2 separate regions of the Homo sapiens genome follow, and region 2 is linked to region 1. A link means that fine-mapping ties the variant in region 1 to the expression of a gene that starts in the linked region. Tissue or cell type: monocytes. Region 1 holds a variant in brackets; the other region holds the start of a gene. All regions are shown on one strand. Distances are between the middles of the regions.

Region 1 (4,242 bases):
GGAAAAGGGACACTATACCATATCAAAGCATAGCAAATAGATTATAATTATTAGACATTCCTATTTTTAAATCCCCTGTGTCATTTCTGCTTCTCAGAATACTTCATTGACCCTTTCTCCTCTGTAGGGCTCCTAACATCCTGCTGAGTTTTTTTCTGTGCTGCCTGTCTTAAAATCATCCTCGTCTTCCACCCTCTTCTTAAGGTCCCAGGGCCTTCACAAAACCTCTCTCTCAAGTTCTCATTCTTTTATTTGCCATTGCCTGTCCATTTCATATGCTTCAGACTCCACTTTTTATTCCCAAAGAAGACTACTAAGGTATTTTCATGAAGAATCATTTTTCTACTTTAGAGAAAAATTTTGCAACTCCCTTAGAAGGCAGAATTAACTTAGGAAGTTGTGATTTTTGAATAGCAATTATGGCTGGGCACGGCAGCTCATGCCTCTAATCCTAGCACTTTGGGAGGCTGAGGTGGGAGGATCACTTTAGGCCAGGAGTTCAAGACCAGCCTGGGTATCACAGCAAGACCCTTTTCTCTACAAAGAATTTTAAAATTAGCCAAATGTGGTGCTGCACACCTGTGATCCCAGCTATCTGGAGGCTGAGGCGGGAGGATTGATGAAGCCCAGGAGTTCCACGCTGCAGTGAGCTAGGATCGTGCCACTGCACTCCAGCCTGGGTGACAGAGAGAGACCCTGTCTCTAAAAAATAAACAAAAATAAAATAAATAGCAATTATCTTACTTCTCTGTATATATTCTTAGAATGTTTTTGTTTAGTGAGGAAAAAAGCATCATTAGTAATTTCCATTGCTTTATCCAATTTATCTAAAACCAATTTGCTGATATGACTCTGTTATAACAGCTATTTTCCAAAATATTCTCAGGTTTATATTTTTGATACCATGGGATCCATTATCCAAGAAATTGGATATTTTAGATAATCAAACACTCTGATTATCTAAATCATCTGAGCATTATTAAAAACACTACATATGAATTACTGAGTTTCAAAGAAGTAATATAAAACAGTAGTAGAGTTTCCCACCTGGTACAATGGAGGCATGGTGGGAAATATTGATGGATAAGACATGTAACCCTACGAAGCCTCACTTTCCCCTCTGTTCAAAGATTTGCTTCACAGGCTTTGCAAGGAAAAACAGAATTTTTTTTTTTTTTTTTTGAGACAGAGTCTCGCTCTGTCACCAGGCTGGAATGCAGGGGCACCATCTCGGTTCGGCTCACTGCAACCTCTGCCTCCCAGGTTCAAGCGATTGTCCTGCCTCAGCCTCCCGAGTAGCTGGGACTACAAGCACACACCACCACACCCAGCTAATTTTTGTATTTTTGGTAGAGACGGGGTTTCACCATGTTGGCCAGGATGGTCTCGATCTCCTGACCTTGTGATCCGCCCACCTCGGCCTCCCAAAGTGCTGGAATTACAGGCATGAGCCACCGCGCCCGGCCAGAAATGATTTTTATAGAAAGTTCCTGGCATACCACAAATATTGGATAAATATGAGTTTGGTGACTTTTCTCCTTTTTGTCCCCTCCTCAAGAATGAACTATTAATATTACTACATTTGGCCAGGCGCAGTGGCTCACGCCTGTAATCCCAGCACTTTAGGAGGCCAAGGTGGATGGATTACCTGAAGTCAGGAGTTTGAGACCAGCCTGGCCAACATGGCAAAACCCTCTCTCTACCAAAAATACAAAAATTCACCGGGCGTGGTGGCAAGTGTCTGTAATCCCAGCTACTCAGGAGGCTGAGACAGGAGAATAGCTTGAACCCAGGAAGCAGAGTTTGCAGTAAGCCAAGATCATGCTACTGCACTCCAGCCTGCGTGACAAAGCAAGACTCTGACTCAA[A/C]AAAAAAAAAAATTACTACATCTTACAATACACTTCCCTCTTTTGTTGATGATTCTGAAGGTACTTCACAATCTTGCAGTGGCTTACAGCTCCCATATGAATATTAGTTATTACTGTTATGTGCTGAGTATTAGAATACTAGACAATAGTATTTACTATATATAATTAGCTCATGAGAGAAATCTAATTATAAAACCCATAACTACTAATTTGCAACATTGCTATTATTTTTGTTATTCAAATTCATTTCATTAGCTACTTTTGCCCTCACAAGTCAAATAAGACTCATTCTACATTGCCTTATTCAAGAAGTTTTGCCCATCAAAAAGTGTCAGACTTCTGGTTAACGTCCAAGTAGAAGATTTTTGGCCACACGCAGTGCCTCACACCTGTCATCCCAACACTTTGCGAGGCCAAGCGGGAAAATCACTTGAGTCCAAAAGTTCAAGACCAGGCTGGGCAACATAGTGAGACCCCATCTCTACAAAACAAACAAACAAAAAAATTATCCGGCCTGGTAGTGTGCACCTGTAGTCCCAACTCCTTGGGAGGCTGAGGCAGGAGGAGTCCTTGAGCCCAGGAGGTTGAGGCTGAGTGAGCTGTAATCACTCCACTGCACTCCAGCCTGGGTGACAGAGTGAGATCCTATCTCAGAAAAAAAAAATAGATTTTTAACTACCTAATTATTGAACAATTGTCAAAATGTCCCAACATTTACTTCTTTTCACATTTATTTCATTTCATCCATATATTTCTATTTTTGATGCTCAGATTCATCTGATCTTAATTCCTCATTAAAACATAAAAGTATAGACCTTAGAAAAATATTTGATTTGCAGAAATATTTTGCTTACTGCTGTTAAAATATTATCATTTGGACTAGAAGTATCACTATGTAAAAAATTACTCTTTAAATTTTTACATTTAACCTTTTCTTTTGCTTTTTCTTGTTGTTATTTTCACTGTTTCTCACTCCACAGGTCATTATGGATCTGATCAACTCTACTGATTACCTGATCAATGCCTCTACTTTAGTAAGAAACAGCACTCAGTTTCTAGCTCCTGCATCAAAAATGATTATTGCCCTTTCTTTGTACATTTCATCTATAATTGGTACCATCACCAATGGCCTCTATCTATGGGTGCTAAGATTCAAGATGAAACAGACTGTCAATACTCTCTTATTTTTTCATCTCATTCTCTCTTATTTTATTTCAACAATGATTCTGCCATTTATGGCCACCTCCCAACTTCAAGACAATCACTGGAACTTTGGAACTGCCTTGTGCAAGGTCTTCAATGGCACTTTGTCTCTGGGGATGTTCACCTCTGTTTTCTTCCTTTCGGCCATCGGTCTTGATCGTTACCTTCTCACTCTTCACCCAGTGTGGTCCCAGCAGCACCGAACCCCGCGCTGGGCTTCCAGCATTGTCCTGGGAGTCTGGATTTCAGCCGCTGCCCTCAGCATCCCCTATTTGATTTTCAGAGAGACACATCATGACCGTAAAGGAAAGGTGACTTGCCAAAATAACTATGCTGTGTCTACTAACTGGGAAAGCAAGGAGATGCAAGCATCAAGGCAGTGGATTCATGTGGCCTGTTTCATCAGCCGCTTCTTGCTGGGCTTTCTTCTGCCTTTCTTCATCATCATCTTTTGTTATGAAAGAGTAGCCAGCAAGGTGAAAGAGAGGAGCCTGTTTAAATCCAGCAAGCCCTTCAAAGTTATGATGACTGCCATTATCTCTTTCTTTGTGTGTTGGATGCCCTACCATATACACCAGGGCTTACTTCTCACTACGAACCAGTCACTACTTTTAGAGTTGACTTTGATACTTACAGTGCTAACCACTTCTTTCAATACTATCTTTTCTCCCACACTCTACTTATTTGTTGGGGAGAATTTCAAAAAGGTCTTCAAGAAGTCCATTCTTGCTCTGTTTGAGTCAACATTTAGTGAAGATTCTTCTGTAGAAAGGACACAAACCTAAACTCAGAAGCCTAAATTTAAATTCTAGATTCTTAAGCAAACACGCACTTGGTCAATTATACCAATAGGATATACCTTCTGCTTTTGTATGCTATAGTCCCTATATTAGAGAGATAACTAGGCTGTACTATAGTTAGATTTCTGAGCAATAAAAGGGCTGCAAGAAAACAAGCAATTTGCAAGATCATGCTGCAAATGTGATTCTTTTCTTTTCTTTTCTTTTCTTTGAGGCAGAGTCTCACTCTGTCGTCCAGGCTGGAGTTCAGTGTGCAATCTAGGTTCACTGCAAACTCCACCTCCCAGGTTCAAGTGATTCTTATGCCTCAGCCTCCCAAGTAGCTGGGACTACAGGTGTACACCACCATGCCCAGCTAATTTTTTTATTTT
Region 2 (4,242 bases), 65 kb after region 1:
TCCAGCCTGGGTGACAGAGTGAGACCTTGTCTTCTTGTCTCAAAAAAAAAAAAATTACACACACACACACACACACACAACACAGAAGCTAGAATGAATATGAGACCTTGTCTTCTTGTCTTAAAAAAAAATTGAACACACACACACACACACACACACACACACACACACATATCACAGAAGATAGAATGAATGGGGCCCCTACCCACCAAACTTGGGATAATTGAGCATCAAAATAAATAATGATAGAGACAGAATATTGGCTGGTGTGGTGGTGTGCATGCCTGCAGTCTCAGCTACTTACCTGGGAGGCTGAGGCAGAAGGATCACATGAGCCCAGAAGTTCAAGGCTGTAGTGTGCACCATGATTGCATTATCGACCTGTGAATAGCCACTGCACTCCGGCCTGGGCAACAAAGGAGGCCCTGTCTCAAGAAAAAAAAAAAAAAAAAGAGAGAGAGAAAAGAGAGAAAGAAACGGATTATAAGTCATTTAACAAAATAGAAACCTCTGGATCCATACTAATTAATATAAATACATTAACTGAAGATTTGATGAGAAACAAGATATTTACAAATATCTTGAAAGGAGAGTTTCAGAGTCTCCCTCACAAAATACTTATTAATTTACAAAGGGGGGAAAAAAGTAACCACACTGGACAAGCCTAACAGACATCACCTTATTAAAGTAAACATCTGTAATGAGAGAAGTTAAAATCGTGCCACCTGATAGGGTGCCATGAGAAGAAAGCAGCAACACTTCTAGAGTCCTGTCATACCTAGCTAAATGTAATCATGAGTAAATATCAGACAGACCCAAAATGAAGGCCATTCTACAAAAATAACTGGCCAGGAATCTTTAACAGCGTCAAGAATATGAAAGGCAAGGCAAGACTGAGAGTTCCAGTTTGAAGAGTAGGAAAGATACATGATAAGTAAATACAATGCCTGATTCTGAACGGAATCTTTTACCATAAACAATATTATTGGGACAATTGGTAAAACGCCGAGTTATGTAAATGTTTTGATTTTGATGGTTATATTGTGATTATGTAGAAGGTGCTTAGGGACAATGTGGCATGGTGTCAGCAATTTAAATCTCAATTCAGGGAAAAAAAGTTCTTTGTACTATACTTGCAACCTTTTTGTAAGCTGGAGATAGATTCAAAATGAAACTTGAAAAATGACATTTAAAACGCTGAGTGTAGTGGGAAAACGCACATGACTCAAGGTAAGAGGCTATTAGTCTCAGTTCTGCCATTGACTTAGTATGTGACCTTGAGCAAGTCACTTTACCTCAGTCCTCACAGTCAAGGCTCTCTAGGGTCCCTTCCACGTCTAACATCTACCCCCACAGCACTGGCCCCGCCTGAATTTCTCCAGGCCCTTTAGGTGTCCCAGAGCTGCACCCAAAGACTCTGGCTTACGATAAAAACAGACAAAAATAGTTGTGGCCGGAATCTCCGGACTGAAAAACCGCTGTCCTAATCCTAACTTGGGCCGCAGTCTCCATCGCTCTTTCGACGGTGAAGCAGTCACGCCTGCCAGAGTGGGCGCTCGATGGCTCGGCGGCCAGCTGGCGGGGCCTTGGACCAGCGGCCCGGCGCAGGGCGCGCTCCCAATCGCTAGCTCCCGCGGTGCTCGCCGCTGAGAGCTTTCCGGCCACGCCCCACGCGCGCCCCGCCCACCTCAATGCCTCGCTGTCGCCGCCGCCGGCAATTCCAGACTCTGCTAGGGTTAGCAGAGCAGCCGGTAACGTTGCTGGACCGGGACGCACGCTCAGCTGAGGAGGACCCCCAAAGGCAGGCAGTCGGGGATCCAGGGAGCGGGGACACCTCCGGGCGCGAGGGGGCTGTGTCTGGGCTGCCTGTTGGCTGGGAAGGAGAACGCACCAGGGCCGCTGTATGAGTTGAGCGCTCGGGGATCCCGAGGGTGGTCGCGGCAGCAATGTGATCGCGAAAGAAGCCGGTGGGAGAACCGGTCGAGGGGCTAGGTGTCTTGACCCTAAGGGCTGGAGTCCGCCGAGAAGGGGCTGACTGGGGCACAGGGTCGGCTGATAAACAGCGTGGTCCGTTCTTCCTCCTGGACTACGGGAAAGTCTGGCTTCACCTGTGCACAACAGGTAGGCGTGGACTCTGCCCGCCAGCGGGAGCCGGGGTTGCCGGGCGTGTGGGGAAGGTCAGCAAGTCGGAGCCCGCCTCGCCAACTCGCCGCTCCCGGGACCCGCCCTGCGGCGTCCGCTGCGCCAGTGGTCAGCCAGGAGCCGGGCCCCGGCCCGGCCTTCGGGCGAGCTTCCTCAGAGGCCCGTTCGTTTTCTGCAGGAACCCTCAAAGAGAGTTCCCAGAAGGGAGCAGTGGAGAGTGTGGATATTTGCTTTCTAACTGTTGCAGTTCTCTCCAGGAAAGAAAGCTTTTCCTTTGGTGGCATTTGCTTAGTGTGAGGAAACATTTTCTTTCACCCTACTCTCGGCCAACGCGGCGTTATTTCAAGTGATTATAAAGTCTTTAGAAACTTTATAAAGCGTTTTATAGTGTTTATTTATCACAGTAATGGATACCTCTGGCAAGTTGGGATAATTTTCTTGACTGTCAAGTCAGATAATAATAAAATGGCTTGAGCTCCTACATTAAAGGTCATAGTTATCCATTGTTTTTATGTGCATTCATTTATTGAACAAATATGCAGCACTTTTTTGGGGCTAGGCGCCCTTAAGGAATTTACAGCCTGAAAGATATTAGAAGTTTAAGGAGGAAAAAAAGGGGCCCACAAGTACACTTAAGAACTTCCAGAGAAAATACTCCCAGTGAAATTACTTAAGCTGTAGGGAAAGCAGAAGTGTGGTTAGAATTGAGCATTAGTTGGATGGGGAGAGGAGAATTTTGTTTAATTTTCCAAACATTTTAGAAAGTATGTCTTTGAGAAAGTAATTTTAGATAAAGTATCGAAGCCGAGATTTGTGTTACATTTTAATGCCATTGACTTTTTTTTTTTCTTCACTGATAAGCAGGCAGGATTTATAATATAAGAATAGTGACAGTTGGAGAATACTGTAGTATGGATTTGTTGTGCCTTGGAATGCAGTTGTTTTACCTAGATGACTATAGAATAGGAGAATAAGAAAAGACTCCTCACCTGAAAGTCAGGAGACCTGAATTCTAGCTTAAGTTCCCTCCACTATTTATGGATGTTAGATTAGGTCACTTTTTTAGTATTATTCATTATTGTATCTGACTTTAGTCACAGAAAATACATGACTCCAAAGTACCTTTTTAATTCTTAAATTATTAATTAAAATTAACTACATTAAACTAATGAATATATTATCTACAGAAAAAAATTATTTTTTTACTTGTCTTTAACCAATACACTTACCTTTCTTCTTGCTTTGTTTCAAAAAGGTTGAGGTAGTTTATAATAGTCTTTCTTAACTATGAATAACATAAGGGTTAAATTCTGAATTTTTTAAATTCTAAAATTATTCTGAATTAAGCGTTTAATGACATCTGCATTTTTTTAAAAAGCTCTATTGAGTCTTGTGTGGTTCATTAATTATCCCATAGTATAATTGAAGAGTTTGAACAATCCTTTAATGAGACCACAGTCCTCATATAAATAACACTTCTGCTTTTTCAGGAGACATTGAGAAACTGTTATTAAATCTCATTTGAGAAATCAATTAACTGGGGCCAAAAAACTTAGTAAAGACTTGCCTGTGTCACTTAATTAGATCCCTTGTCTAGTTCTAGTGTTAAATTTTTGAATTAAAATAGTGCTCAGCAATCTACAGCCTGTGGGTCAAATCTGCTCTGCTGGCAGTTTTATAAAAGTTTTATTGAACACAACAATGCTCCTTCGTTATGGCTGTGCATGTTTTGTTTTTGAGTAGTTGTGATAGAGACCGTATGGCTCCCAAAGCCTAGAGTATTGTCTGGTCCTTTACAGAAAAAAATTAGTGGACCCCTGAACTAGAGCTCTTAAGTGCTTAATCACTAAATCTTTTGTAGGAGGAAATAGATTAAATTCAGTTTTAATTCTTCTGTTTGTTTGTTTGTTTTTGTTTTTATCGAGACAGGGTCTGGCTCTGTAGCCCAGGCTGGAGTGCAGTGGCGCGATCTTGGCTCACTTGCAAGCTCTACCTCCCCGGTGCAAGTGATTCTCCTGCCTTAGCCTCCCGAGTAGCTGGGAGTACAGGCATGCACCACCACGCCAGGCTAATTTTTGTATTTTTAGTAGAGACGGGATT

Alleles and levels. Positions count from the first base shown, and alleles are read on the strand shown. Sizes are in standard deviations (SD) of each study's normalised expression.
For the expression in monocytes of the gene that starts at base 1,723 in region 2, allele A in region 1 goes with a lower level than allele C (large effect, 1.6 SD a copy in Quach 2016).

The links. PIP is the estimated chance that this variant, and not a neighbour inherited with it, causes the effect.
Region 2: HEATR5A starts here. The variant in region 1 is fine-mapped to the expression of HEATR5A in monocytes (Quach 2016, PIP 0.95).

What each region holds. Positions count from the first base shown.
Region 1 is chr14:31,482,578-31,486,819 of GRCh38, reverse strand. It overlaps GPR33 (G protein-coupled receptor 33), which reads left to right. Exons shown (of 2, transcript NM_001197184.3): 2 at 2,849-3,945. The coding sequence starts at 2,855. The coding sequence ends at 3,856. Among named protein-coding and RNA genes, the nearest start is that of GPR33, 3.3 kb to the left of the region's middle. The variant A/C (reference allele first, on the strand shown) is at 1,869.
Region 2 is chr14:31,418,031-31,422,272 of GRCh38, reverse strand. HEATR5A (HEAT repeat containing 5A) reads left to right here and starts at 1,723. Exons shown (of 36, transcript NM_015473.4): 1 at 1,723-1,801. HEATR5A-DT (HEATR5A divergent transcript) reads right to left here and starts at 1,515. Exons shown (of 4, transcript NR_110045.1): 1 at 1,296-1,515; 2 at 305-429. RefSeq lists enhancers at 1,403-1,552, 1,983-2,032 and a silencer at 2,143-2,262.